2 linked regions of the Homo sapiens genome follow. The protein of the gene in region 2 purifies or fractionates together with the protein of the main gene of each other region. This does not show direct contact. Each region holds a gene or a part of one and is shown on either strand. Other genes may lie near its edges.

Region 1 (14,544 bases), on a different chromosome or scaffold from region 2:
TTAAAGAAGTCTTTGCCTGGGGAAAGGGGTGCCTTCTGACCCCCAACCCGGCTACACATCCTTGTCAGGAAGTTCCTCCTCAAGCCCTCCATGCACCTTAGAGAATTCCCTCTAACTTTCCCCCAGAAGCCCAAGGAGCTTGGATCCTTACCCTGGCTGACCTCCAGGCTGACATCAAAGGACAGGCCTCGGCTATTGATGCCCAGGCCACACTTGTAGCGCCCGGAGTCATCCTGGCTCAGCTGGGCAATGTTCACCACAAATGTGCCGTTCTCCGGGAAGTTGGTGAGGTTAGCCCTGCCTGCATATTTGCTGGAGACGTAGCCCTCCGAGGAGATGAGGGTTATGCAGCCACCTCTAGCTCCCTGCCGGCACCAGTACTTCCGGGTGTGCCGGTTGACAGAGGTGGGTGGGTAGTAGCACGTGATGGACACTGAGTTACCTTCCACACTATTCACCTCCTCGGGACCAAATATGGGACTCTTCGTGGAGATGGCTGTGGGAACAGAAGAGAGAGGCTTTCTGAGGCCCTTGGGAGGTAAAGCCTGTTCCAGATAACCCACTATGAGTAGATGTGGTTTTCTACCTGACACGTAGGCCCTGTGTTGATAATTTATCATATATCACAGCTGGAAAATTGCTGAGATTAAATAAAGTGACTGTTTTAATCATGATTAAATTGGAATTGTTATTCATTAATGATAACCATTTCAAGGACAAGGGAATGACAAATTTATGATAACCCTTGTTTTTTATTTTATATATTTTTATTGTTTTGAGACAAAGTCTCTCTCTGTCGCCCAGGCTGGTGTGCAGTGGCACGATCTCGGCTCACTGCAACCTCCGCTTCCCAGGTTCAAGCGATTCTCATGCCTCAGCCTCCCAAGTAGTTGGGACTACAGGTGCATGCTAGCTAATTTTGGTTTCTATTTAGTAGAGACAAGGTTTCTCCATGTTGGCCAGGCTGGTCTTGAGCTACTGACCTCAAGCAATCCACCCTCCTTGGCCTCCCAAAGTGCTGGCATTACAGCTGTGAGCCAGCATCCAGCCATCCATTGTTTTTTCAAACAATAACACCACTTTCGTAAGGTGTTACATGTTTGCACTTGCCATGTGTTATTTCCTTATATTTCTAAAAGCACTTTGTAGATGATTTTCTTTTCTTTTTTTTCCCCCAGATAAAAATATTGAGAGCCAGAAAGGATAAGTGACTTCCCTCAGATTTCACAGCGGGTCATAGAGATGCTTGGTTGAAGTTAAGGTCTTTGTTATTCTCAAAGAAGATCTTTCACAGACCCCTGGCCTTGAGATTAGGAAGTGCCATTCCTGTCCCTGACTTCCAATGCTCACAGATGTGGCCTTTCAGTGTCTTCTCTGTATGACTCTTCCTCAAGGAAGTGCCAACTTTGAGAGGGACATCCCTGGGGATGAGTCTGATTTTAGTGTCCCCAGGGAGGTGAACCCTGGAGTCGGGCAGGCTGAAGGGGTGGAGCTTGGAGAGTTGGGGCCTGGCAGACACACCTGGGAAGACCGCCAGCAGGCAGGTGAGCACGAAGAGCAGCATTGCTGGTGGGTCCCGAGCGCCGCACCACTCAGGCCGACTTCTCCTGTGCAATGCTGAAAAACAATAATCACAAGGAGATGAAGCGCCCCTTGTCTTCCAAGACTAGTTGACCTTAGAGTTTCTGTGACATCTATTTGGCTTTGTATCTCCAGCAACTGACATAAATCCTGTTGAATGAATCAGTGCCTCCACTTTTTCCATAACAATTCAAAGTCTTATCATCCTTCAACACTTGTATATCCTTAATAGCTAGAAGTAGCTTTTGTCTTCTCAACTAAGCTGCAAGCTCCTTTGGGATAGAGATATTGTGTCATTTGCTCTGTTTCCCTGCCCATGAGACACAGTCCCAGGCACACCGTAAGATCTCAGGAATGGCTTGCTGGGTGATTGGTTCCTACCAATACGTGGCCCCCATCTCTCTGTTTCAGCTGCCCTCCCTACATTCCTGGGAGGTGAAGCGGGCTGACATATTTCACAGTGTGTTCAGATGAGGAAACTGAGACCCACAGAGGAGGTGTCATGATTATTAAGGCTGTAAATGTAATGATGATGGTCCTAACCCCATTGATTGCTCCCTTATTCTGTCTCAGGCACTGTGTTGAATAATTTATGTGTACTATCTCATACAGACTTGATATCAGCCCTGTGAGGTTAGTATCCTTATCCACATTCACATGGGAGGAAATGAAGGCTTCAAGGTTAAGTACTTTCCTCAAGGGCACATGGGGTTAAATGTGTGGGGGTACACAGAATGGGGGTCGGGGAAGATTTGGGCCCACCTTTGTCTGACTGCAAAGTCCATGTGCTTAACCTCTCCACTACTGTATCGCACCCCAAATACAAGAGCATGCTTTTACCTTATGCTTATTTGTGTTATTTGTAGAGACCCTGTTGCTTATGAAAGCACTACCATTTACATTATTTCATTTGAGCTTTATATGTTCCCTTGAAATAAGACAGACGGGTATAATCACAACCATTTTATGGATAAAACATTGAGGTCTTGAGATGCTGAATGATAGGCTTACGTTTTCCCAGCAACTTGGTTATGGAATTGGGGTTAAAAGCTTAGGTGTTAGGGTCTTTGTAATCCTGCCTGGTAAGGCCTGGCAGACAAAGATGAAGAATCGAAGATGAGACCACTCAGACGGAGCAGCCTGTGTGGACTTTGTCTCCACCGTGGACACAGCCCAGGGCTGAGGAGAGTTGAGGGTCCCAGGGGTCTGCCTGACAGCAGCTGTCATCAAGACCCCAACTACAGCCTAGAGGAGGAGACAGAAGTCTCCACTTTCCCAGACTTTGACAGACTTTAAACTTTGGAGTTGTCTTGACAAAGAGAGTGTTAAATGATCGTAAGTTTGGGCAGTAATGAGTGCCCATAAAGATAAGGACGCTGTAAGCAGGAGGAAGCTGGGCGTTATCTCCCAGACCTCCCTCACCACCCTGGCCCCTGCTCCTGCTCCCAGACTCCCTTCACCAGCTTGAGCCAAAGGCAATAGAGTTGTTTATCTTGGTTATTTCTTTGTTGCAGGGGAATTTCCCAGCAAGGAACCTTTTATTTCCTTGTGAATATAAAGGTATTTTGTTTCTGCAGTTCTTTGGAAGAATAAAGGGAGGGAGTGGGAACAAATATGGGTGTCAGATGGCAACGTTGAGGCTCTCTTGAGTCCGGTTAATTGCCCCAGACCTTTCTTACCAGGTCAATGATTAATGCCTGGAGTGGGGCCTTGGCCAAATACCAGTCAGCTCCAACATGGAAGCAATCAGGGGACACTAGCTGGGATGTCATCACCTGCGTGGGCACTGCAAGCTGCCATGGGAGATGCTCCCAGGTGGGAGCAGCTTTCAGGAGGCCAGGAAGTCTCAGAAACAGTTGGGATGGGCTGGCTGCAAAGTCCTGGGAGATCTACCATTTTCTACTTGTGCTGGCACAGGGTGGGTGCAGTCACAGGTGGGAGGACAAAATGCTGCCTGCTTTTAAGAACCCACACCAGCAGCAGCTGTCCTTGCTTCTTGTTCCTGTCCTCACCTCTAGATAAGCAAGCTGCCTCATATTTGCGTGAGACAGGAGTGGTCTTCCCACAAGCTGAGCTGGGGGATGCAGCCCTCCTCTGGACTTGGCCTGGGTTGCAGAGAGTCAGATGCCAGCTTCTCCAAGGTGAAGACCACCCTGACCTCTGTCCCAGACTTCTCATTTTGTGACATGTTTGGGTGGCTGTGCATGTTTGTGTAGAGAGGGGACATGTGTGTGCACCCATTACCCTCTGCATGGTCTCAAGCCAGGGATGAGAGCATCAGGCATGCACAGGCAGGTCGGGCAGATGGCAACATCAGCGGGATGCACACAGTCCAGTCCTAGATGGGATGATTGGCAGGAGAGGATACCCCTGCTTTCAGGAACAGGAGCTCTTCTTTGCCCAAAGCTAAAACTTGAAGCACAATTTCTCTAGTAGCATTTGAAAGGACCTCGAGCTTTCAGAATCATTACAGACCCCTTCCTCTCAAAACCAGAGACTTTCTTCCAAACCTGGGGATTCAAATCTCGGGAGACCTCCCCAGCCCAGGGTGGCTGGGGCTGGATTTAAAGGATTTGCTTAAGGAAGGAAGAAAAAGAACATAATGTTGGGCACCTGCTACGTGCCAAATGCTTTGCTAGGTTCTTTTCTTGTAAGACTTCATCCATCAGCACAACAACCCAAGAGATAGATGTTGTTATCCTCATGACACAGGTTGGAAATCTAAGGGTTATAGGGATTCTCGACCCCAAGACCCACAGCAGAATCCTAATTTGAGGTCACTACCCCATTATCACTCTTTAAATGAGCAAAGGGACCTGCTTTATTGGGTTTTATATATATGATATTATATCATGCATGAGGGCACGTTTTCTGGTCCTTAAACTAGCAGTTGTTTTTTCACTGCTGAGGCTAGGATGTGCTAGATCATTTTCAGTTTACTAAGTTAGTATCCCAACATATGTGTAACATATGTCCCCACAATTGTGGATTGGGGCAGGAGTGTAAGCTGTGCTGAAGGATAGTTTTTCTTTTTATAAAATGTATTTAACTAGCTCCTGTTCAGTTAAAGTGACTGCACTTCATCTCTCATGGTGTGGAGTCCAAACCTTTGTCCATCTAATCTCAGGTTTCCCTCTTTTTCAGAGGAAGAAAGGTCCCCTGGACTTGGTATGAGAGTAGAAGTCTGCTTGCTGGACATCCTTTGAAGATAGAGAGATGGAGAGTGAGCTACTTAGGTTGGACTCATGTGGATAAGAGAGGAGACAAGCACTATGGGCTAGGCTAGAAGAACGTACGCTGAGTCCTTTCCAGGTGCTTTACATGTGTTAATGTGTTCCATTTTTACAGCCACCATAGGAGATGGGACAAAATGGGCAACCCCATTTCATGAGTGAGATAATTGAGGCACAGAGAGGTGAGACATTTGCCCAAGGTTGCACAGTTGGTAAGTGACTTAGATGGGATTCTAGATCAAGAGCATAGGCCCTTAGCCACTCTGCTTTACCTCAGAGGGTCTTCCTATTGAGAGGAAGCAGTGGAGAGAGGAAGAAGCAGGATATTCAATCTTAGCGAACTGAGAATTTGTTCAGTTCTTTCCTCTCTGCCTTTCACGGAAAAGGCAGTTCTTATAAGGAGACACCTGGGGCCGGGCGTAGTGGCTCACGCCTGTAATCCCAGCACCTTGGGAGGCTGAGGTGGGTGGATCATGAGGTCAGGAGTTCAAGACCAGCCTGGCCAACATGGTAAAACCCCATCTGTACTAAAAGTGCAAAAGTTAGCTGGGTGTGGTGGCATGGGTCTGTAATCCCAGCTACTCAGGAGGCTGAGGTAGGAGAATCGCTGGAACCCAGGAGGTGGAGGTTGCAGTAAGCCAAGATCACGCCACTGCATTCCAGCCTGGGTGACAGGGCAAGATTCCATCTCAAAAAAATAAAAAATTAAAAAATGAAGAGACACCTGGACCCAGAGGTAGGTGCCAACAGAGAAATTTCTTCCTGGAAAATATTAGCTGCTATTTATTTAGCACCTACCATGTGTAGGATATGTTACATAACCATGGGTATAACCAGGCATGTTGACGCCAAAGCCTCTTTCCACTCCACCATACTGTGTCGATGCCAGTGACATTGGGACTCCAGCCCCAGCCCCTCCAGAGAGAGGGCAAGACATAGATGAAGGTCTCTGCTGAGCACAATGCATAGGTATTTTTTTTTAAGTTGGATAGTTTGCTTTTTAGGTGACATCAAAATGTCCTCATGACCATATCAAAATGGCTGTACCAAAACCTCATCGTTCAAACTTGCTGGTGACTTCACACCACTCACATAGACTCACGGTGTCTTGGTTTCCTCAACTAGGGAATGACATCACAAAACCAACCCTGCCTACCTCCTCGTTGGTATCAAGGGAGAATGAGACGAAGGTGTGAAAGCCCAGGGCAAGTGGGTTTACTAAATGGAAGCCTGTGTGACCCCATTTTTTATCACCTAAAGCCACAGAGGTCTAGCGGCACTAGGAGATAAGCAGAGAGAGTTGCTTTCCTGACTCCTGGCTCAGTGTTCTTTCTGCTACTTTAGCACATCCAGGGGCGGGACAAGGATGGAGAGAGAATTCCAGATCTGGCTCTGGGAAGACCTATGTCCAGGCACCAGACAGCTGCCTTCTACCTAAACCCCTGAAATTGGCATCTCCTCTCCAGATGTTAAAGGATCTATAATTCCCCTAGTGAAGGGGGAAAGTGATGGCACAAAATAGGAGCAGCTTCAATGGCCCCAGGCACTGTGGCAATTGCACAAAGGGAACTGGGGGTCAGGGATGGAGCTTGACCCGCTGCTGCCCTTGTGCCGGACGGTCCCACTGCTGGCTTGGGCTGCTGTCAGGATGGGCAAAGGGAGGGGAAGCCCATGTCTGAGATCTGCTGGCTGCAGAGCCAGGAGGAACAGCAGGAGTTGATCATGCTGCCTGTGGGGCTCAGCTCCACCTCACTCAGTGATCCCGTGAGGACCTCTTTTTTTCTACCTCTAGGAAGGGCAGGATGATGCGATGACACACATTTATGTCTCCCATGGCAGGAATCTGCTAGAGCAAAGCGAGGTGGAATTGCAAAGGATTTCAGAGGTTCTTGGAAGCCCAGAAAAAAGGAGCTGAACATGCCTTTGCCAGAAAGCCACAAGTGGGAAACCTCAAAGAATGGAAGAGGACTTGCTAGGTGCCATACTTTATGCGCACTATCTAATTCCAGGTCTGTTGGTGTTCAATAAATCCTTGATTAATTAAACTAAACTGAAAAATATGAAACAATTCCTATTTCATTCTAGAGGTTACAAAGCTATTTCACCTGTGTTTTCTCATTTGAACCCACATTGACCCTGAATGATAGGTGTTATTTCTATCTTTGTTTTACAGATTAAGAAACTGAGGATCAGAGAGGTTAGGTGGCTTGTCTAAGGCCACACAGTTAATCAACTATGAGGAGTTAGGAAATCCAGGCACAGACCAAGCTGAAAGAGTAGAATTACATATGCTGACCACAGAGGTCCCTTCCCACCTGCTGATATTTCTCAGAAAAGGATGGGGGGCTTCCACACACGTGCATCCCTACTCGTCCCACTGCGATATGCACGCTTACTCCCCAGCCACACACAGTCACACAGTCTGCCTCCTTGTCCTTGTCACCCCACTATCTAGGAGACTGGGAGTTGGGAATGGAGGGGGTTACCTGAGCCATCGTCCCGAGCCCTTTCCAGATAGCATCCCGTCTGGGGATCCCAGAGCAGTAACACTTACTTTTAGCCACTTCCTTCTCTCCCGTTGATCTGACTTCAGGGACACAGCCTGCTGGCCAGTTGGTAACCCCTGCCTCTCTAGGAGCTACTGGCAGGGCACTGGACGCTGCTGCCAAAACTGAAACTCTGCTCAGTGTTTGACCCACACCTGGGCTCTTAAAGGGCCACTCTCCCACAGGCACCGTGGCCAGCCAGGGTCATGTGACTCTCACAGATCCCTTGCTTTCCTTTCATTTTGGCCTTCCTGGCTGGCTCCATTTGGTTTCCTTTGACCTTGGGGAGACTCTGTTACTTGGGAATCCTCCATCGTTGCAGCTTCAGGATGAGGGACAGAATGTCAAGCGTGAAGATGCTGTTCTGTCGCTTTCTAGCTGCAAGACCTTTGGCAAGTCACCTTCCTATTTCTTTTCATCTGGAAAAGAGGGATGGTAATACCAAATCTACAGGTAGAGGATATAGCCCGGTATTAGCTCTAAAATACCTGGCCCAATGCTTGATTTGAAGTTGACATCATCTGATGGGGCACAGGTGGCAGGAGTGGCTGTCGTAGTCCTTGGTCTCATATCCCCAGTTGCTCTGGAATCCCCTCCGACTCCCTAGGTTACTTAGCCTGGACAAAAATGCCCCTTATACACCTCCTGCCAAGCCCCTTTTACCAGTCCCAGAGCTCCAGGAACTGGCAGGACTGTGGCCCTTCCTGTTTCACTCCCCAGAGTCATGAAAGACTCGCTGCTTCTGGGCTCCCCTGAACATGGCTGACCTCAGAGTCTTGTTAGGACCCGGGCTCGGCTCCATAGCAAGGACGGTGCTGACCTGCTGAGCTGAAGTAGCACCTCCTTCCCTATCTGTTAGTCCATGCCAAAACATGACCTGGTTGGGACTCCCAGGTGTTCCCCAAATGATCGTGGCAGTCCTGTGACAAAAGTGAAGCCCACTCCCCAACACACACGTGTATGGCCCCCCGACCCCTCACTGCAAACCCCCACAGAAATGCTGCCCATCCTACCTGTGCAGGGCTGACCCAGGCTCTCCCTACAGAGTCCTATAGGCCAAACACCAGAAGGGGAAGGAAAAATAGAGAAATAGAGCCCTGGAGAAACACAAGGCAGCCAGAGCCCTGGGTCTTATTTTAGCTAACCACTGGCTCACTTGTGGGTGTTAACACACAATCACAGATTTCAATGGCAAGCAAAAAAACCCCATAATTTCTTTATGTAGCTTAATTTCTCTCTTTTTTTGTGGTTTGCAAACTTAGATTTTCTTTTTTTATTTTGTTTTAGGTTCCAGGATTACATGTGCAGAACGTGCAGGTTTGTGACACAGGTAAACGTGTGCCATGATGGTTTCCTGCACCCGTCAACCCACCACCTAGGTATTAAGCCCCACATGCATTAGCTATTAGTTCTAATGCTCTCCCTCCCCCCACCCCCCCCAACAGGCCCGGATGTGTAATGTTCCCCTCCCTGTGTCCGTGTGTTCTCATTGTTCAGCTCCCATTTATGAGTGAGAACATGTGGTGTTTGGTTTTCTGTTCCTGTGTTAGTTTGATGAGGATGATGGCTTCCAGATGTAGCTTAATTTCAAACCCTAAACCCATAATCTGACTGATAAAAGAAAACAAGTTACCTAGTCACTTCTAGGCAAGCTCAGCCCAATTCAGTGATCTCTCAGTCACTTCACTCCAGATTTAAAATTTAGCCTCATTATGGAGTTCCCTTCCTTTTTGTCTCCCTTCTCTCCCCTGGGGTCCAGTCTGGAGAGAGCGGTCTTGGGTGAGGGGGTGGTCAATGTTACTGCTGAGGCAGTGAAAAGGGGTGGCCCATTATTATTTTGGTCTTGCTTTGTCACGATGCTGTGCTGGCCTTGGGCTCCAGAAGGAAATAGTTTTGTCTACTGAGATGTGACTTCCCCTGCTTGGTCAGTGGGCTTTGTCCCTGCTCATCCTGAGGGTTCTGTGGTCCACACTGTGCCCTCCTAGTCCATACACTGAGCTCCCTGGGGTGGGTCTTCCAGGCCCTCAGCCTCTCCTTGCCCACCTTGTGGGTGCAGGGTGAGTTTGGCTGATCACAGACTCCTGAGGCCTTTGGGAGATCCTGTGCAGCAGAGTCACATTTTCCCCCAACACTCTTGTAACCTCCTGTGTGCCAGTGTTCCCATATAATTGGGGGTACAATGGATATCAGCAAGACTGTGGACCACCAAAGTTCTCTACAGGATGGGCGAAGGTGAGGGCCCCTCAATCTGGAGTTTTCAAGCCCACCTGGATATCTCTATCATTGTTAATCCCCTCTCCCCTACTGTAGCCTGGACTCTGCCCCATGGTGGTGGGTGGGAGGGCACCAAGACACATCAGTAACTAAGCTCTCCTTTTTACTCTTCAGCAGTCTTTCTCCTCCCCAGTTCTGGGGTTAATGTCTAGCAGGAGGATGCGAGGGGAGACAAGATATGCAGGTGCAGAGATGAGACAAGCCTGGTTCTGTCAGATTATAGCTCCTTTCAAAGGATTCCCGATTTATACCTCTCTCCATTTGAACTCAATAGTCAAAATATTTGTAGGGTTTGTTTCTTCCTTCCCAAAGCAAGAAATAAGTTGTGTCCAGTTGTCCAGGCTGGAGTAGAAGTCAAGGCAGGTTCACAGAACACTAGTGCAGAAATTTGACGAGCAAAGGCTTGCAGGGAGGAAGGGGAGAACACTCATTAAATCATTTCTTCTCATGCTGCCTTGGTGGGCGTGGAGGACAGGTTGCAGATTTCCTTCCCTGCTTTGCTATTTCATGATGGTGGGTAATTTACTAGATCATGTCCTGCTGCATGTTTTCAATAGTCTCCAAAACTGTCTTAGCTGACCCATGTCAGACACACACACATACACATACACACACACACACCCCACATACCTGGAGCCCACTGATCCTACTGATCCAGTTTACAGAAAGGGGAAAATGAGAAGTAGAGCCCTGGGAAGAGGCAGGGAGTCAAAAATCCTACGTCCTATTCTGGGCTCAGCCACACGCCGGTGGTGTGATTGGACTCACTTGCTTCCCCTCTCGCACTGTGGTTTCCCCATCTGGAACCCAGTGGCCCTAAAATAGTACTATTTCTCAGCCCTGGGGGAGGAGGGACAGGCCAAGAGAGTCCATTGCCCAAATCAATAATAATGATGATAACAGCAGTGATTATACTTTCCAAACTTACAACACTTCATCTGCTCAACCCTCCCTGCTTCTTTTAAAGTAATCATACAAGAAAATATACCAGCAGAAGAACAGCTTCTCACTGGACTTTCCTGACTCTGGGACTCAGCATAAGTCACTGTGGAACACCTTTGTTTTGTTCCTGATTCTGCCTCTAATTGCCGAGTGACCTTTGCCAGATCACTTCATCCTGTAGGTCTGCAGGATTGTTTGTTCCATCAGAGGACAGTGCCAAATTGTTCCCAAGGCTCTTTCAGTTCTAGGATTCTGTGTTTTGGTTGAGCACCGTATTAGTTTCTGACAGCTGCTATAACAAATTAACACAACTTTAGTGGCTTAAGAAAACAGAAATGTATGCTCTTTCTGTTCTGGAGACCAGAAGCCTGAAATCAAGGTGCCAGCAGGGCCACCCTCCAGGCTCTAGACGATAATCCGTTGCTTGCCTCTTCTAGCTTCTGGTTGCTGCTGACATTCTTTGGTGTTCTTTGGCACGTAGCTGTGTCACTCCAACCTCTGCCTTCATAGTCACATTGGCTTCTGTGTATGTCTCAAATAACTCTCTGTTTCTCTGTTATATGGATGGTATTTAGGGCCCACCCAGCTAATCCAAGATGATGTCCTCATCTCAAGATCCTGAACTTCATCACATCTACAAAGACTCTTTTCCAAATAAGGTCACACTTCTGGGCTCCAGAGATTGAGACATAGACAAACCTTGGGGAAGAGGGATGGTGGTTATTTCTCGGCCTACCAACCATGACAAGCTCAAGGTCCAGGGAGATTTGAGACATGCAGGAGAGTGCACCCCTGTTCCACAAGGGCAAGTAGTCCAATTGAGAAGTCATCACTCACATGCAATACTGTCAAGGAACAACACAAGCCAGGAGGTAGCAAGCATAGAGAGCCTGTGTAGCCTTGGGAAAAGAGCAGGGGCTCTGGACCTCGACGCCCTGGGTTCACATCCAAGCCTTACCACCTGCCAGCCAGGGAACCTTGAACAAATTATTTAATGTCTCTGGGGAAAATTATACTTACTGTATAGGTATGTTATAAAGATTAAGTATAGGCCAGGTTCAGTGGTTCACACCTCTAGTCCCAGCACTTTGGGAGGCCAAGGTGGGAGGATCACTTGGGGTCAGGAGTTGGAGACTAGCCTGGGCCACATAGCAAGACCCAGTCTCTACAAAAACAAAAAAATTAGCCAGGGTGGTGGCACACCCCTGTAGTCCCAGCTACTTGGGAGGCTGAGGTGGGAGGATTGCTTGAATCCAGGAGTTGCAGTCTGAAATGAGCTATGATTGCACCATTGCACTCTGGCCTGGGTGACAGAACAAGACCCTATCTCCCCAAAATAAAAATCTAAAAAAAGATTAGCTATAATATGTTCAGTGACTAGCATCTAATAGGCGCTTATGATTCAGCAGCAAATAAACGGGACAGCAAAAGGCAAGTGTGTGTGTGTACATGCATACGTGTCTGGCACTGTCTGCTAAGACAGTTTTGGAGACTACTAGGAGCATGTACCAGAACATGATGGCGTAACTAGAGTGATTCTCCACTGAATGATGAAGGACCAAGAACAGAAAAGTGAAATGACTTGCTCCAGTTTGCACAGGAGGTCATCACACAGATGGGTCTAGAACCAAGGTTTTCTAGAAAGCATTTTCCTCCACTTCCCAAAACTTTTGCTGTCAGGATGAATTTTTTGGATGATATTTCTACAGACAGCAAGGGACGTCCGTTTACACCCTTGGTTTAGCCAGAGAATATTGCAGATGACCAAGCCCACAGGCTCACACAAATCCAACCCTTCAGGCTGTCTTTAGCTTGATGCTCCACAACCATGGGTTGACACAATCACCAACAGAGAAAGGGAAGCTAGATAGCCCTTCTTCACTCTCCACTGCTCAGCGGGCATCCCTCCACATGGATGGTTCCTTTGAGTGTGGCTTTTGCCATAAAAATGAGATAAGAGGGACAGAGGAAATGCTCTTTACTGCCAACTCTCTGCTCCTATGTACAGATCTTCACCTGAGTCAATGTTTAACCCCTGACTGGAGTCAATGTTTAATCCCAGGCCAGCCAGCCCTGCAATCCAGCATTCCTCATCTAGCCTAAAATACAGAGTCATTTTAGAATCAACCACTGAAGAATAAAATTGTGACTGAATTTGCCAAAGCTAAATAAACTCTCCCCCCCTTTTTAGAGGATACTGGCTGTTTGGAATTATTCATGCTACCTGTTCCCATTAGCAGATAGTGGTATGGCGTTTGCTGACCCTAGCTGTCACTCAGTGGTAGGAGCACAGCGTTTATTCTTCCTGTTTCAGTTCTTCCTTTTGGGCTGGGGGAGAAGAGCATTGGGTGGGGACCACTGCCCTTGTTACCCAGCTGGCAATGCTGCTGGCTGGCAACATGCTTCCTTGTGAAGCCACTACTTGGAATCCCACTAGGGGAGCTGGAACTTGAATGTTCCGGTTGGCTGCATTTAGGCATGTTTTCTGGGAGTTTCTGAGCCCAGATTTATGTTCAAAGGCCTAAACCTTTTCCCAGGTGAGTCTCCCTATTAAGGGGCAGGTGGGAGAGGGAAGAGTTCATTAGAAAGACCCTGACTATTGGTGATTCTCTAGGGGCTTCCTAGAGTCCTTCCTAAAGAGCTCAGGGCATATGGCATGTACAAATGGGCAGCATTGTGTCAACTCTAAGAACAACATTAATCAGGGAAGTCAAAGGATGGCAAGCTGGGTGGTAGCGTGCAGGGACGTGAAGAGGGAAGGAAGGCCGCTGTCAGATTAGCAGCTCTAGTCTTCAGTTGGTGTTGGAGAGGTGACTCACTGGCCAAACGTGTGCATGCAATGCTCAAATCTTTTCACTTTCCTCTATGAACACACTGAGGCCCTGCCTTCTCCTTGACCACCTGCCTCCCTGTGTCACTGCCCTGATGTCCCATTCTTCACTGTTTTCCTAGCTCAGCTGCCTCTCAGTCAGAAAGTGAAAACAACATTTCTTCTGGGGCTCCCAGAGTGGGGAGGTTGTTGCTACCCTTTCTCATTTTGGCTGGTGAAAGAGTGAAGGTAGAAACTGTGGTAAGAGCCCCCTGAGATTGCCTGTGTCCAGCCCTGAGGAGCCTGCCGTGGGGAGCGGGGAGTGAAGTGGAACATAAAAGGCCCTGGAGGCTGGGTGTGGTGGCCCACACCTGTAATCCCAGCACTTCAGGAGGCCAAGTGAGGCGATCACTTGAGGCCAGGAGTTCGAGACCAGCCTGGCCAACATTGTGAAAAATACTCTACTAAAAATACAAAAGTTAACCGCGCATGCTGGCGTGCTCCTGTAATCCCAGCTACTCAGGTGGCTGAGGTAGGAGGACTGCTTGAACCCTGGAGGTGGAGGTTACAGTGAGCCAAGATTGTGCCACTGCACTCCAGCCTGGACGAGGGAGCGAGAGTCTGTCTCAAAAATAAATAAATAAAAAAAATATTTAAAAAAAAAAAAAGAAAGAAAAAGGCCCTGGAAATGGAAAGTCAGCCATGGTCCAAAAGCTCTCTCAATTCTTCTTTGGGTCTAGTCTCTACACTCCAAAGAGCTTTGATTCTCTGTTTCTGAGAGGCAGGGACATATGAGCAAACCTTTTTTGAGGTTACCCAACCATTGTCCTATGTGCTGTTACCTCCACACCCTGGCTAGGGAGAAGCGGAAGGAGGAAGATTTTTGGAGTAGACATCCAAAGTCAATAGGTGGAGTGTCAGGTGACTGGGCCCAGCCCCTCTCATAAGCCACTGGGGTCCTGCTGAAGACTTGCTGTTTCCTTGTTCCTGGTCTGAGCCTGGCTCTCGGCCCAAGGCTTGCCTGACAGGCAGCGATTGGAAAAATAGCCCCTGTAATCCCCTGCAGCCTGTGTTCATCTGAGCCTCAATGTTCCCATCTCTAGAATGGGAGTATGTTTCTTTTTGGTGATGTATATTGTAATTAATTTGTAGTTGTCTG
Region 2 (16,843 bases):
TGCCCCCAATCTTCACAACCAATGCCCCCCAAATCCAACAAACCTGCACCTCACATATCAAAGACACAGTCTATTTCCTACTCGAGATGGCCATAAGGTACAGGAGGAAAGCATTTCCTCTGGAGTCAGGCCAGGTTGAAATCCCAATTTCTGTTTTTTTTTGGAGACGGAGTTTTGCTCTTGTCACCCAGGATGGAGTGCAATGGTGCGATCTTGGCTCACTGCAACCTCTGCCTCCCAAGTTCAAGCGATTCTCCTGCCTTATCCTCCTAAGCAGCTGGGATTAGAGGTGTGTGTCAGGATGCCTGGCTAATTTTTGTACTATTAGTAGAGATGGGGTTTCACCATGTTGGCCAGGCTGGTCTCAAACTCCTGACTTCAGGTGATCCACCTGCCTCGGCCTCCCAAAATGCTGGAATTACAGGCGTGAGCCACCGTGCCTTTGCCTCCTAAGTTCAAGCAATTCTCCTGCCTCAGCCTCCCTAGTAGCTGGGATTACAGGCGCATGTCACCACGCCTGGCTAATTTTTGTATTTTTGTAGAGATAGGGTTTTGCCATGTTGACCAGGCTCATCTTGAACTCCTGACCTCAAGTGACTTGCCCACCTTGGCCTCCCAAAGTGCTGGGATTACAGGCATGAGCCACCACACCTGGCCTAAAATCCCATTTCTGCCACTTTCTAGCTGTGTGATCTTCAGAAGTGACTTTACTTCTCTGTGCCCAAGCCCTGTATGGGCTCAGTACTTGCCTAACATTCTGAGACCACTGTATTATCAAATCTTCCCGACAATCCTGCAAGGGCAGGGGTGGTAAATAATCTTTTCACTATTTTCCAGATAAGGAAACTGAGGCTCAGGGAATTGAAGGGCACACAGTTATTTTGTGCCTAAGGACACATAGTTATTAACATGCACTGTTCGAGACCAGCCTGACCCACATGCAGAAACCCCATCTCTACTAAAAATACAAAGTTAGCCAGGTGTGGTGGTGCATGCCTGTAATCCCAGCTACTTGGGAGGCTGAGGCAGGAAAATCGCTTGAACCCTGGGGGGCAGAAGTTCTGGTGAGCTGAGATTGCACCATTGCACTCCAGCCTGGGAAACAAGAGTGAAACTCCATCTCAAAAAAAAAAAAACAAAAAAAACCGCACATAGTTATTAACATACAGGGCTGGGATTCAAATGGTCTGATGTGGAATATCAGGCTACTTGGAGGTTTTGTGAAGTCCTTTTACAGCTTTTCATCATTTTGATTTTAAATATTTCAGTATAGTGGAAACACCTGAACAGGGAGTTCTCCCTCTCCTGTTTGAAACACCAAACAGAATTATCCTCTCAAGGCTGGGATATCCTCTAATGCTGCAAGACCACAGAATCCATTACCTTTTCGTCCCAGGTGGCCATGTCCCTGTTGCCTCTGGATCTGAAAAATAAAAAGACATTTGTCCAGATCTATCATCTTGCTGCCATCTGCCTTGGTATGTGCTCTGTAATCCTTTCTTACAAATTAGTTTTAAGTTAGTTTAGTTTTAACTGTGCCCGAAATTAGTGTAAAGTACAAAGTATATGTAGGAGGGCATACATCCTGGATATAGAGCCAAATGAACTGAAACAGGGACTCAAACAAATACTTATTTGTACACGAAAGTTCATAGGCTTTCACAGCATTATTCTTAAAAGCCAAAAGGTGGAAACGACCCGCTTGTCCATCAATGGATGAATGGATCAACAAAATGGGTCTGTCCACACAATGGAACGTTATTTGGCCATAAAAAGAAATGAAGGGGGCCAGGTGTGGTGGCTCACACTTGTAATCCCAGCACTTTTGGGAGGCCAAGGTGGGTGGATCACCTGAGGTCAGGAGTTTGAGACCAGCCTGGCCAACATGGTGAAAACCCGTCTCTACTAAAAATACAAAAATTAGCTGGGCATGGTGGTGGGGACCTGTAATCCCAGCTACTTCGGAGGCTGAGGCAGGAGAATCGCTTGAACCCAGGAGGCAGAGGTTGCAGTAAGCCGAGATCGTGCCACTGCACTCCAGCCTGGGCAACAGAACAAGACTCTATCTAAAAAAAAAAAAAAAAGGAAAAAAAAAAAGAGAGAGAAATAAAGTATTGATACTTATTACAATGTAGATGAACCTCAAAGATACCATGCTAAGTGAAAAAAGCCAGACATAAAATGTCACATATTGTATGATTCCATTGATATGAAATGTCCGGAACAGGATATGAAATGTCCAGAACAAGCAGATTGGTGGTTGCCAGGGGCTGGGGACAGGGAAGGATGGGGAGTGACTGCTTAATGGATTAGGGGGTTTCCTTTTGGGATGATGCAAATGTTCTGTGCAGCTAACAAGGTATTTTTTAAAAAGCAAAATGATATATTATTAATTTTAATACAAAGAAAAACAGTGAAAATGTTCTGATAGAGGTGAAGGCCGCACACTGTGAAATGTACTTAAATGCCACTGAATTATTCACTTTAAAATGGTTAGCTTTACATTATGTGAATTTCACTCCAATTGAAAAAAGACAGACATTACAGTGTTGGGGTTGCTCTGAAAAACAGTAAAACCTTCTGAACACCCACCACCAGCTATATCAGTGAATGCACCTCTGAGCAGCAGGAGCTGCTAGTGCTGTTGAGTATTCACATATGGACGTGGAAAGACGCCAGCCACAGAGCAAACAGAGGAGTCACATTACGGCAGAGTCTACAGGATGACCCCATCTAAGTCAAAAGAAATACAGATGCTTTTTTTTGGTCCGTAAGGATCACTCTTCGCAGTGGTTATCTTTGGAAGAAAAGGGAGTGATCTGGGTGTGGGGCTTTCCTTCTCTGCTTCTGGGAGGCGTGAACTTTTACAATGAGTAGGTGTTACTTTAAAACGTTATTTTTAACATAGGTGATCTATGCATGTAGTAAAAAGTTTAAATTATACAAAAAGATATTCTATGACAAGTCAGTCTCCCCTCTACCCATTATCCTTCCCAGAAGTGGTCGCTCTGACCCTCTGACCAGTTTCCTACGTCGCCTTCTGGAGTATTCTATGCCCTCACAAGCACATGAGTAGATACTCTCCCCCAACCTTTTATTTTATTTTTTTTGTAAACAAATGTGAACCCACATACTGCTGTGAACCTTATTTCCCTTCAGGGTGTGGTAGGCAAAATAATGCTCCCCTTCAAAGATGCACATACCCTAATCCTTGAACTTGTATATTACTTTACATAGCAAAAAGGATTTTGCAGACATGATTAAGTTGCAGCTCTCAAGATGGAGGGAATGATTTTGGATTATCCTAGTGGACCCAATGTCATCAGAGGGGTCTTTGATAAGTGGAGGCAGGAGAAAGAAGAGATTGTGAGGACAGAAGCAGAGGCTGGAGTCAGAAAGATCTGAAGATTCAGTGCTTTAAAGATGGAGGATGGGGCCTCAATCCAAGGCATGTGGGCCCCTCTAGAAGTTGGGAAGGCAAGCAAACAGATTCTCCCCCAGAGCCTGCAGCAGCAACACAGCCCTGCCCATACCTTGACTCGAGCCCACTGAGACCGATTGTGGACTTTTGACTTCCAGAACTGTAGCATAATAAATGTGTGTTATCTTAAGCTGCCAAGCTTGTGGCCATTTGTTACAGCAGCCACAGAAGACTAACACAGTATCTCAGAGGTGGTTCTATGCCAGTGTGTCCTGTATGAAGTGCACGCCTTGTCATGGCTGCACATGAGTCCCCTGTAGGAATGTGTTTAATCCTACTAGTGATGGACATTTACGGTTGTTTCCAATCTCCTCCCACCCCAGCGCTTCCATAAATAACCCTGCACACCCTTTTTTTTTTGTTGTTGTTGTTTTGTTTTGTTTTGGAGTTGGGGTCTCACTCTGTCACCCTGGCTAGAATGCAGTGGTGCGATCAGAGCTCACTGCAGCCTCAAGATCCTGGACTCAAGCGATCCTCCCACCTCAACCTCCCGAGTAGCTGGGACTATAGGCACACACTACCAAGTCCAGCTAATTTTTGTAGAAAGGGGGGTCTCACTATGTTATCCAGGCTGGTCTCAAACTCCTGAGTTCAAGTGATCCTCCTGCCTCAGCCTCCCATGGTGTTAGTATAATAGGCATGAGCCATTGCACCTGATCCCTCTATGTAACTTCTATAATTTTTTTTTTCCCCTGAGACAGAGTCTCGTTCTGTTGCCTAGGCTGGAATGCAGTGGTATGATCTCGGCTCACTGCAACCTCTGTCTCCCAGGTTCAAGCGATTCTCCTGCTTCAGCCTCCTGAGTAGCTGGGATTATAAGTGCCCACCACCACGCCCAGCTAAAATTTTTTTTTGTATTTTTAGTAGAGACGGGGTTTTGCCACGTTAGCCAGGCTGGTCTCAGACTCCTGACCTCAAGTGATCCGTTGCCTCAGCCTCCTAAAGTGCTGGAATTACAGGCATGAGCCACCGTGCCTGGCCTAATTCTAAAAAATTATTTTGAAATAAACTTTCAAGAAAACTTTAAAGAGGTTCTTTCTCTCCCCACAGTTACATGCTGAGGGTGCAAGGGACTCTTAGACTTTCTCGCTGGTTGACTGGCAGAGCAACTTCTGGACCCAGCAGAGTTCAGCTTTGCATGTCCCTATACCAGCCCCCTGGGATTCTCAACCTGCTCTCACGAGAGGGGCTCAAGTGGAACCATCACCACAAGAGGAGGTGAAGGGAAAAATTAAGGTGCCCTGGAGATTTCCTACCTTTGCAAGACAGGAGCTAGAACTAGCACACACGCAGAGGAACACTCAGCTTCAGCAATTCAAGCAACAGAAACTTTAAAACTACCATGCCCTTCTCCATTAAACTAGCCAAAACAAATAAAAAGGATAAAAACCAATGCTTGCAGAGCTGCAGAGAAATGTGCACACATTCCTGGGGATGATTTTTCTAAATAGCTACCTGGTCACAAGAGGTAAGTGCTTCCAAAATGATCCCACCCTTGACTTGCACACCTTGGTTAGGAAACTGTATCTCCAAGAAGCCATTTGATAGCCAAAAACATGCACAATATGGACAATGATATTTATAGCTAAGTTGAATAGTATGGCTAAAACCTGGAAGTGGCCCTCAACCCCCAAGCCCTACTTTAGGGAAAAGCTGAGGAAGGCAGTGGGCTCTTGGGAGGGATAATTCTGAAGTCTATGTAGAAACGGGAGAAAAAATGCTGTCAAGCAGTGAGAAGAAAAATAGGCTGATGGCTGACACATTGCCTGCAACTGTACAAAACTATCTGAGCCATTCCTAGGTGCCAGGCACTGATTTCCCAGGTTCTGGGAAATCCAAGGTGAAGAGGAAAGGGCAAGATCACGATCCTGGTAGACTGACATGTTACCTGGGGAGACAAACAAGGAAGCAAGGAAATATACAAGACAGACCACACCCCCCCCCCCCAGCTAAGCACTGGGAAGCCAGCCAGCCAGAGTAAGGGGCCAGGGAGCAGGCGGGGTCTCCTTAAGTGGGGTGGTCAGGGACAACTCGACATTTATGGTGTGCCCTGAATTACAAGGGAGTATGTCACAGATTGCAGAGAAGAGCATTCCCGGGAAAAGGAAGAACACGTGTGCTGTGCACAGCCCCTGAGAGAGCGGAGTACTTAGGAGGTGGCGGCTGGGGACAGCAGTGGACAGGACAGTGGCCAGAGAGAAAAATTGAGAATAATCACACAGGGCCTGATCATGGAGAGGGCTTGGCAGGCGATGCTGGGGATTTGGATGGAAGTGAGGGGTCCAGCGTGATGAGGCGGCAAGAGATGCTGGCGGCCTGGTCTCAGGGTGGAAGTAGGGGGTGGAGGGGTGGCCGGATTCAGGATATGCTTTGGGTTAGAACTTGTCGCTAGCCTAGACTGTGGGGAAGGGACGAGGAGCGGGGTGGTGGATGACAGCTCCCAGGGCCCAAGCCCCAATGACTAGCAAAGGATCAAGTCTGGGGACAAGAACACTCTGGCTTTCTCCTTCTTGCTAAACCTGTGTCGGGGAGGGCAGGGGCCACAGAGCAGCTCTGGACCTTGTGCAAGCCTCAGCCCAGAGATTTTCAAAACCCTGCCCTTATCAGCCTTTCCCTCTGGGGAGTCAGCCAGAGAAGTTGCCACCCCCTCACCTTGGTCTTACTCAAGCAGCTCCTAGTTGCTGGTGGGGCTGTCCGGAAATCCTGCAGATCTCAGATAGCCCTGAACAACCTGAAGTTAAAGGTGCCCAGGACAGAGAAGTACTCTCAGAGGGGCAGGACGGAGGGTGGAGGAAGCACTGGAACCATGAACTTTTGGTAGTAACCTGGTGCCAGGGGCTAAGCCTGTACACCAAGCATCTTATATCATCTTCTCAGCAATCCTGCGAGGTAGGTACATGCTTAACCTCATGGGACAGATGCGGAAACTGAGGCAGAGACAGGCCAAGTCACGAAGCTGAGCCTGCAAGATCCCCCACACCCAGCACTGGTAAAAGTGGTGGGGGCAATGTTGGAGGGAGTTCCACTGAGGAACTGCTCTCCCCTCTCTGTCTTGGCGTTTACCCTGGCCCCAATCACTCTTGTTCCTCAGCATCTCTGTCTCCAACAGGTGGGTGCTTTTAAAGTGTTTCTAGGGAAGAGTTTGCTTCCCCGGGGCTCCTCCTTCAGGGATGGCTGGGCCTGCTCATTGCAGCCTTCTCCCGGGACATCCAGCACTGCCTCTGCCCCTGCTTCTCTCCTACAATCTCCCGGGAGGGCAGCGGGGCAGGGACGATGCATCCGAGGACTTAGGGGACACAGACCTGGTTGTGAGTTCTGGCTCTGCCTCCTTTGGCTGTGTGACCCAAGGCAAGGGGCTTGGCCTCTCTGCGTCTTGGTTTCTTCACCTGTTAAGAGGGAGACGACGATGGTCACCTGTGGCTGCTGCGCGGAGTGTGAAGAACTGAAGGCACCTGGCCCAGGGCGGCGCGCACCACCAACTCTCCGGGATCGGGGGGTCACTAGGGCCAGCGTCTCCCGCGTTCCCCTCCCCTGGACTCCAGTCCCTGCCGAGGGGAAGCACTGCCCGCCCGCGCCGGGACACGCCAGAGCCGAGGGCAACCGAGGGCTGGGGTCCTGCTGGGGCTCCACGGCGAGGCCTGGACAGCGGAGATGCGGGGGGGGGTCCCCTCTTCTCGGAAGGATCGGGCACTGGGGGTCTTGTAGAAAGGGCTGCACGCCAAACGGGGTACGCCCCCCGCCCGGCCCGAGCACTTACCCGGCGCCCCACCCGCCCGCGGTCACCGCTGCGACTGGGAGCCTCAGAGCAGGTCCGGCCCAGCCCGTCCCGCCCCGTACCGTACCAGGCCCCGCCCCCGCCCGGGCCGCCCCCGCCCCCGTCCCCGCCCCCACAGCCCGCAGACCCCCAACGGTCGGCGGGCTTCTAGGCCTCGGCCCGGGTCTTAGTCCCCTTGTCCCTGCCTGTGGTCAGTCCACCCGTTCGTCCCTACCTCCCTCACCCCGGCTGCCTCCCGCCCCGCAGGGTGGGCCTGTCCTGGGCCTCCCGCAGTTACAAAGGTCCCGCCCGTGGGAGCGAATCGCGGATCACAAAAATCCTGCCCCGGGCCAGCCTAAGGGAAGGGTGGGCGGGGGAACCACTTCCTTCCTCCGCCGGCTGGAGCGGGGCGAATCCACCCCGCCAACCCCTTTCGGGGAGCTTCTGCTCCATCCCACCGTCTCCGGGCCACCCCTGCCTCTGGGTCTCCTGATTCCTTGGCCTCGTCCCCTGCACAGTTTCTGCCATGCAGGGGTGGAGGGTGGGCAGCACGCTCTGACGAATGAGCAACCTCTCAGCCCTCAGAACTTCCCTTGGTCGAGGGCTCTGAGGCTGCTCATGGGATGGTACTGGCAAGAGGGAGCCTTACCGCGTGCAGCCCCTGCCTGTCCTGGGCCGCCTTGCTCCGGGCCAACTCGTACGGCCCCGCAGGCGCAGGCCCAGCTCTGAAGTCCCTCCCCTGTGGGCCCTCCCAGCACCCTGTTCACACAGTCGAATCAGTTCTGTTAGCTTCTGTCTTCCCCCAGAGACCATTTGTCCCAAACATCCTGCAAAGCCGTCTTCTGCACACCTCTCCCTTCCGGTTGAGTCGGGGCTGTGGGGAGAGGCTCACCTCCTTGGGGTTGTGTTAGTTTCCTCATGCCGCTGTTAACAGATCACCACAAACCTAGTGGCTTAACACAAATGTGTTATCTTACAGCCCTGGAGGCCAGAAGTCTCAGATGGGTCCTACAGGGCCAGAATCAAGGTGTGGGTGGGGCTGTGCCTTCTGGAGGCGCCAGGGTAGTGTGTTCCTTGCTTTTCCCGGCTGGAGAGGTGCCTGTGATCCTTGGCTGTCTCAATCCGACCTCTGCCTCCATGGTCACAGCGTCTTCTCCCTTCTAAGGAGCCCTGTGATTATATGGGATCCACCTGGATAATCCAGGCTAATCTCTCCAGCTCAGGATCCTTCACATAGCCACATGTGCAAAGTCCCCTTTGCCACTTAAGGCAACATACAGGTTTGGAGGGGTTAGGATGTGGATATCTTGGTAGGGGGGTGCATTCTTCTGCCTCCCATAGGGGTATTGTCTGCTTCAACTGACTCGGCTTTCCCCAATTCTGCTGGGCAGCTGGCTTTCTTTTCTTTTTTCTTTTTTTTGGAACGGAGTCTCACTGTCGTCCAGCCTGGAGTGCAGTGGTGCGATCTTGGCTTACTGCAACCTCCGCCTCCTGGGTTCAAGCAATTCTCCTGCCTCAAGCCTCCCGAGTAGCTATGATTACAGGCCAGCATCACCATGCCTGACTAATTTTTGTATTTTTAGTAGAGACGGGGTTTTACCATGTGGGTCAGACTGGTCTCGAACTCCTGACCTCAAGTGATCTGCCTGCCTTGGCCTCCGAAGGTGCTGGGATTACAGGTGTGAGCCACTCCACCCGGCAACAGTCTCACTCTGTGGCCCAGGCTGGGGTGCAATGGCATGATCTTGGCTCAGTGCAACCTCTGCCTCCTGAGTTCAAGCAATTCTCCTGCCTCAGCTTCCTGAGTAGCTGGGATTACAGGTGCCTGCCACCACGCCTGGCTAATTTTTGTTTTTTTAGTAGAGACAGGGTTTCTCCATGCTGGTCAGGCTGGTCTCGAACTTCTGACCTCAAGTGATCCGCCTGCCTCGGCCTCCCAAAGTGCTGGGATTACAGGCGTGAAACACCATGCCTGGACTGCAGCAGGCTTTCTTTTTTCTTTTTGAGGTGGAGTCGCGCTCTGTCACCCAGGCTGGAGTGCAGTGGCGCGACCTCGGCTCACTGCAAGCTCCGCCTCCCAGGTTCATGCCATTCTCCTGCCCCAGCCTCCTGAGTAGCTGGGACTACAGGCGCCCGCCACCACGCTCGGTTAAATGTTTTGTATTTTTAGTAGAGACGGGGTTTCACCGTGTTAACCAGGATGGTCTCGATCTCCTGACCTCGTGCTCCGTCCTCCTCGGCCTCCCAAAGTGCTGGGATTACAGGCGTGAGCCACCGCGTCTGGCCAGAAGGCTTTCTTAAAAACATTTTGGTCAGATCTCCTGACTTCTCAGTCATGTATTATTACAACAGCCCCATGCCAGTTTCTAAGGCATAGTCTGGTCCATTTTCAACTTCAACTTCCTTATATTTTATTAAAAATTCTCCTCCTCCCCCAGGGCCAGCTAGACAGAGTGGAGAGGATGTGGGGACTGCTCCCAACAGCCCCTCCTCTGTGTTCACTCCCCTCTGGTTGAGGAAGGGAAAAGGGAACAAGTACCCCGTCCCCTAGTTGCACACCTGGAAGTTGCAGCCCTCTGTCTTAACATCTGGTCTTGCCTGTAGTTAGACCCTTAGTGCAGACAGGTGGTGACCTCAACAGACCCTGCTAAGGCAAGGCAAGGCTCAAACCCTGGCCTGGCTTGATCCCCTGGCTACCTTCCCCCATCCCTTCCCCTACAGAGGCATCGCTCAGTCTTCTCCCTGGGTACTTGCCTCTGCTCCACGGTGCAGTGGTCCAGTCTGCAGCCCCCAACCTTACTGATGGCCTGGAACCTGGGGCCACCAGCAGGGACCTATGTCCATACTTTTTGGGAACCAGGATCCCAAAGGAACACTTCAGCAAGTCTGGAGAATTTGGTGATATTCTCAGCATTGTCGTGTTTACTGAAATACTGCTACTGCTCAGGCATTTCAGTGGACAGGAAAAGATCTCAAATGTGTTACACTGTTATCCCCAGGCACAGGATTTGACCTGCAGTAGGTACTTTACATTCCTATTGCATAAATTAATGAGTATTGAGCATAATAAGATTGGGGTGCCCTCCATCATTGCTACTATTCAACATTTCACTGATGAGCTCAGTCAATGCAATAAAACAAGAAAAAAGAAATACAAAGACTGAAAAGAGAAAGACTATTATTTGCAATCGATGTGATTGTCTACCTAGAAAATCCAAAAGACCTAACAGACTAACACGTGACCACCTACTGTGTGGTAGGCCCTTTCAAGGTACTAAGTATAAGATGAAGGAACAGCCTTTGTTCTTAGTGAGCTCCCATTTTAGTTGGGAAAGTGAGGCCAACAATACTTAAAGGAGAAGGCCGGGCATGGTGGCTCACACCTGTAGTCTGAGCACTTTGGGAGGCTGAGGCGGGAGGACTGCTTGAGCCCAGGAGTTCAAGATGAGCCTTGGTGACAGAACAGTACCCCATTTCTATAAAAAATGTTTTAAAAAATTAGCTGGGCATGGTGGTGTGCCCCTGTAGTCCCAGCTACTCAGGAGGCTGAGGTGGGAGAATCCCTTGAGCCCAGGAGTTCGAGGCTGCAGTGAGCTACGATTGCACCACAGCACTCCAGCCTGGGTGACAGAGCAAGACCCTGTCTCTTAAAAAACAAAAACAAAAACAAAAACAAAACAACTTAGGGAAGAGTAAGCTGAGGTCCACAGAAAGAATCCAGGAGGTCTATTAACTTGGGTGGGAAAAAAATTCTTTATTTTCATTAACCTCTAACTGAAACGTATTATTACTTTGTTTGTTTGTTTAGAGACAGGGTCTCACTTTGTTGCTCAGGCTGGAATGCAGTGGCTCGAGCACAGCTCACTGCAGCCTCAAACTCCCAGGCTCAAGTGATACCCCTGTCTCAGCCTCCCAAGTAGCTGGGACTACAGGCACATGCTACTGTACCCAGCTAATTTATTATTTATTTATTTTTATTTTTTGTAGAGATGGGGTCTTGCTTTGTTTCCCAGGCTGGTCTCAAACTCCTGGCTTCAAGCAATCCTCCGGCCTCAGCCTCCCCAAATTTTTTTTTTTAAATTGGGATAATAGACATGAGCCACTGGCCTTTAACTGAAATTTAATATTTCCTTCAATTATGAATGTAGGTAACAAATTACAGTTGCATTACAAACGTCACTAACTGGCCAGGCGCGGTGGCTCATGCCTGTAATCCCAGCACTTTGGGAGGCTGAGGCCGGTGGATCACCTGAGGTCAGGAGTTTAAGACCAGCCTGGCCAACATGGTGAAACCCTGTCTCTACTAAAAAATACAAAATTAGCCGGGTGTGGTAGCGCATGCCTGTAATCCCAGCTACTTGGGAAGCTGAGGCAGAAGAATCGCTTGAACCCGGGAGGTGGAGGTTGCAGTGAACTGAGATCACGCCACTGCACTCCAGCCTGGGCAACAAGAGTGAAACTCCATCTCAAAAGAAAAAAAAAACGGAAAAAAAAACCCACTAACTTTGTCATCAGTCAAAATCACAGATGTTTTTAAACCACAGTATAGTTATTGGAGATATCTCAAAATATAACTTATATGTATCATTACTTCAAAATTATAGTAGTTACTGAGCCAGCTGTTCTTATAGTTTAATGTGTACTATAAGAACTCCATCTATTTATTACAAGTAAAAAAAAATTCAAAACTTCAATGCAAGATAGCTGGCATCATTTGTAATACGATGCATTCGTTCTGTTTTATGCATTGAAAAACATTACTCTTGGAAGAGGTCCAGAAGCTTCCCCAGATGTCAAAGGCCCCAGATTACAAAAAGATTAGGAACTGCGTTAGATGAAGGACTTGTTCCGGTTTGGGCAATACCAAAGCAGTTCTCTTACACAAGGCAGTCCTTGCCCCACCCCCGGTCCTCCGCATTTCTTACCAAGCAGTGAGCCCAGCTTGCTTGAATTTTCTGGGTGTCCTGCCTTTTGATGTTCATGGAGCGTGTACTTACTTATTTAGGGATGGGGTCTTGCTCTGTCACCCAGGCTGGAGTGCAGTGGTGCAATCACTACCCACTTCGGCCTTGACCACCTGGACTCAAACTATCCTCCCATCTTAGCCTCCTGGGTACCTGGGACCACAGGCATGCATCACCACACCTGGCTAATTTTTATTTTTTTGTGGAGACAGGGTCTCACTATGTTGCCTAGGCTAGTCTCAAGCTCCTAGGCTCAAGGGATCCTCCCGCCTTGGTCTCTCAAAGTGCTGGGATTCTAGGCATGAGCCACCGCGCCTGGCCACATGGAGCATTTTGAGGAAGATCTGAGTACAGCCCTGGGGGACTGGGCCATCCCTGGGCTCCAGGACAGCTGGGGCCGGGCCAGGGCAGTGGCCAGCTCTGGCTTTCCCCAGCGGGAAGAGAGAGGGCTGCCTCTGCTGGTTTTGGTTCCTCCAAGGCAGTTATCAACGGCTACAGTTGACCACTTCCCTTCCTAGGGCAAAAGCCCTGTCCTGGCTCTGGTAGAGTGTGAGAAAATGGACAGAGGGAGAGAAAAGTAGATGAGTTCTCAGCCAGAGACAGGGTGGGGGTTCTGCTGGGATTTCTTAGAGTGACATCTGTTGTTTAGGCCCAGAGGTGCCTTTCCCAGCAGATAAGATTTATCTACAGCAGTGACGGCCACACGACGGGATCTGCACAAGGCCTGGGCACCGATGCCTGATGACGCAGCTATGTGAAAAGGGCACGGTCACCTCCAACTCTCTTCTCTGGCACTCGGCTCAGCCTTCTGCCTCACAGTTCAGAGTCACACAGAAGAGTAGGAAGAACACAGGCATTGCATCAAAGAGGCCTGGGTGTAAATCCTGCCTCAATGGTTTCCCTTGCCCGCTGGGTGATCTGTCATCAATTCAGCAAAGAGTTTCTGAGTGCCAACTATGTGCTAGGCAGAGAACACAGAGTTGAGTAAGACAGGCAGGTCCTGCCTGCCCTCATTAAACTTAGTCTATATAGGGAGGCACACAAATACTAAACGACAAATTACAAAGTGATAAGCATTGAAAAGGGGGCTGGGTGCGGGGGCTCACGCCTGCAATCCCAGCACTTTGGGAGGTTGAAGCAGGCAGATCACTTGAGGCCAGGAGTTCAAAACCAGCCTGGGAAACATAGTGAGACTCTGTCTCTACATACATATATGTATATACACACACACACATATATATACACACACACACACTTATATATAAACATTTCTATAATTATAATTGTATAATTATAATTGTATAATTACATATATTTTGTTTATTTTGTGTACACACACACACACACACACACACACACACATGACCTAGCCAGGTGTGGTGGTGCATGCCTGTATTCCCAGCTACTCAGGAGGCTGAGGCCAGAGGATTGCTTGAGTCTGGGAGGTCAAGGCTGCAGTGAGATGTGATCACGCCACTGCACTCCAGCCTGGGTGACAGAGTGGGACCCTGTCTTGAAAACAATGAAGTATTGCAAAGGAATGAGCTGGGGGTTGTGGTGGAGATAACAAAAGGTGGAGACTGAGATGCAGATCCACTGAGGCAGGACAGCAGGGAAGGGGTCTCTGAGGAGGTGACATTTAAACGGACACTGAAAGCTGAAGTAGAAGCAGCTATGAAGAGAGAGGGACAACCTTTTCAGAAGAGAGAACAGCATGTGCGAAGGGCCTGAGGTGGGAAGAGCTTGGCCTTATGAGGCCAAAAGGAGGCCAAGATTGTGGATGCACAGAGGAGGGTGAAGAGAGTCATAAGAAGTAAGGCTGGGGAGGAGGCCGGAGGCCCACAGAAGGGGCTGGAGTCCATGTGGAGCACAGGAAGCCATGGGAGTTCTAAGCAGGGGAGGGATCGTTTGATTTTTTTTTTTTTTTTTGAGATGGAGTTTCATTCTTGTCGCCCAGGCTGGAGTGCAATGGCGCGATCTCAGCTCACTGCAACCTCTGCCTCCCAGGTTCAAGCGATTCTCCTGCCTCAGCCTCCTGAGTAGCTGGGATTACAGGAGCCCGCCACCATGCTCAGCTAATTTTTTTTTTTTTCAGTTGAGATGGGGTTTTGTCATGTTGCCCAGGCAGGTCTCGAACTCCTGACCTCAGGTGATCTGCCCACCTTGACCTCCCAAAATGCTGGGATTACAGGTGTGAGCCACTGTGCCCGGCCAGGACCATTTGATTTTTTACAAAAAATGTAGTAAAATACACATAACATAAACGTTACCATTTTACCCATTATCAAGCATACGGCTGGTGGCATTTAGTACATTCACAATGTTGTGCAAGCTGCACTGCTATCTAGTTCCAGAACCTTTTCATTATCTCAAAAGGAAACACTGTCAAAGGCCCCGTACATAGTGGCATGCACCTGGAATCCCAATCACTTTGGAGGCTGAGGCAGGAGGATTGCTTGAGCCCAGGAGGTGGAGACCAGCCTGGGCAACATAGCAAGACCCCATCTCTAAGAAAAAAAAAAAGGAAACCCTGTACCCATGAAGCAGTTCCTCCCATTCCTGTCTCCCTCCAGCCCTAAGAACCTGCTAGTCTACTTTCTGTCTCCATGGATTTGCCTGCTTTAAATGGAATATCATCATATATGGTCTTTTGCGTCTGGTGTCATTCATTGAGCACAATGTTTTCAAGCGTCATCCATGTTGTAGCATGGTCCTTCATTCCTTTTATGGCCAAAGAATATTCCACTATATGGGTCTACCACATGTTGCTTATCCTTCCATCCACTGATATGGTTTGATTAAAAAAGATAACTCTGGTTTATATAATAAACCAGATAAATCTGGGATTAGATTATAGGGAAGATAAAAATGGAAGTGTAGAGGAGAGATAAGGATGGCTTGGACAAGTCGGTTGGGAGTAGGGAAGGAAAAAGGGGCATGATTCCAGATCCATGTGGGAGACAGAAAAGACAGGGGGGAACTGTGGGTGGCATGGACATGTAGGGGAGAGGAAGGGGCAGAGCACCGGAGTGCACTGTGGTGCCCTCCATCAAGCAGAGAAGCCTGGGAGGGGGCCAGGTGGAGGATGTCCCCATTTTTGATAATGTTTTATTTGAATTGTCAAAGTGGAGGTGTCACCTGGGCAGTAGGATCTGAGTCAGGAATTTGGCAGAGAGGCTTGGGCGTCATCAGTGCACAACTGGTATTGACAACAAGGCCTGGGCTGTGATCCCCTTCCAGAGTGTTGACAAAGGGGTTCAGGACCAAGCTAGGGCCTGGGCAGGTGAGGAAGAGGCTGCAAAGGAGACAGAAAGAGTAGCCAAGAGGTAGAAGGAAAAACCAAGGGTGTGTGGGATCCTGGAAACCAAAAGAGGAGCGTTTTGAGGAAGAGGAAGGAATAAGTGGTGTCAGATGGAAACTGATAGGGTGAACAGCGCAGAGAGGGAGAGAGTGGAAAGGAGATACAAAAGCACTTGAAGGGAGCAGAGAAATGGGAGGACAGCTGGAGGGGCCCACACTGGAGTCCCCCCAAGACTAGCATAGCACCTGGAATGCAAGAACACCCATTGATTCAGTTCTTACTATATGCCACTCACAGCGCGAAGCATCTTTTTTTTTTTTTTTTTTTGAGATGGAGTCTTGCTATGTCGCCCAGGCTGCAGTGCGGTGGCACGATCTCAGCTCACTGCAACCTCCGTCTCCCAGGTTCAAGCGATTCTCCTGCCTCAGCCCTGCCTAGTACCTGGGATTACAGGTGCACACCACCACGCCTGGCTAATTTTTGTATTTTTAGTAGAGATGGGGTTTCACCATATTGGCTAGACTGGTCTCGAACTCCTGACCTCGTGATCTGCCCACCTCGGCCTCCCAAAGTGCTGGGATTACAGGCATAAGCCACTGTGTCTGGCCGTTAAGCATCTTGTCTCCATTTCACAGCTAAGGCTGAGACTCAGAGAATTATTCACAAGGCCACACAGCTGGTAAGAGGCAGAGCTAGAACATGAACCTGGCTCCCAATACAGGATTCTCAGTGGGCTCCTTCTCTGCCCGCAGAGACAGAGGGGGTGCTGCTACTGTTCGTGGGTCAAGTTCTCCAGTCCTTTAGGATCTTTCTTGTCTGCTTTGTATTATTATTTTTTTGTTGAGTCAGGGTCTCACTATGTTGCCCAGGCTGGTCTTGAACTCCTAGCTTCAAGCGATCCTCCCGTCTTGGCCTCCTAAAGTGTTGGGATTACAGGCGTGAGCCTCTATGCCCAGCCTTTCCTGTCTGTTGAAGTCGGTGAGACTTAACATTGGGAAGATGGAGGCAGAAGACACTAGAAATATGCTCTAACTCACTTTAGTGAGCAGAGCCTTACACTCAAGGGTTTAGCAGCATCTCCTTGTTCCACCTGCTGGTTGCTAGTGGAAAGTGCTCTCCACACCTCGGTTCCGCCCTCCAGGCCAACTAGAGGCTTCCGCAGCCGCTGCAGCACTGGAGCAGAGCCGAGGTGGGAGGACTCCTGGCTTCTCCACCACCGGAGTCTACATTGAACTCCCTCGCACCCCTTGCAGTTACCTGTTGCAGCAGAGGTCATGTGATCATCAAATGCTCTGGCCAGGGGGACCCGAGCACTGTCTGCAGGGACTTCCAGGAGTTTCCTC

Evidence for each region.
Region 1: the proteins of HVCN1 (region 2) and PIGR purify together in Homo sapiens (affinity purification with mass spectrometry; 2 studies listed by BioGRID and IntAct, with this or other methods). This does not show direct contact.

What each region holds. Positions count from the first base shown.
Region 1 is NC_000001.11:206,938,968-206,953,511, forward strand, and holds the start of PIGR (polymeric immunoglobulin receptor precursor), read right to left. Parts: upstream 7,500-14,544; 5' UTR 7,369-7,499; exon of another isoform or gene 7,301-7,368; intron 1,618-7,300; 5' UTR 1,565-1,617; coding exon 1,522-1,564; intron 497-1,521; coding exon 152-496; intron 1-151.
Region 2 is NC_000012.12:110,681,842-110,698,684, forward strand, and holds the start of HVCN1 (voltage-gated hydrogen channel 1), read right to left. Parts: upstream 7,275-16,843; 5' UTR 7,239-7,274; exon of another isoform or gene 6,955-7,238; intron 6,868-6,954; 5' UTR 6,784-6,867; intron 1,424-6,783; 5' UTR 1,405-1,423; coding exon 1,384-1,404; intron 1-1,383.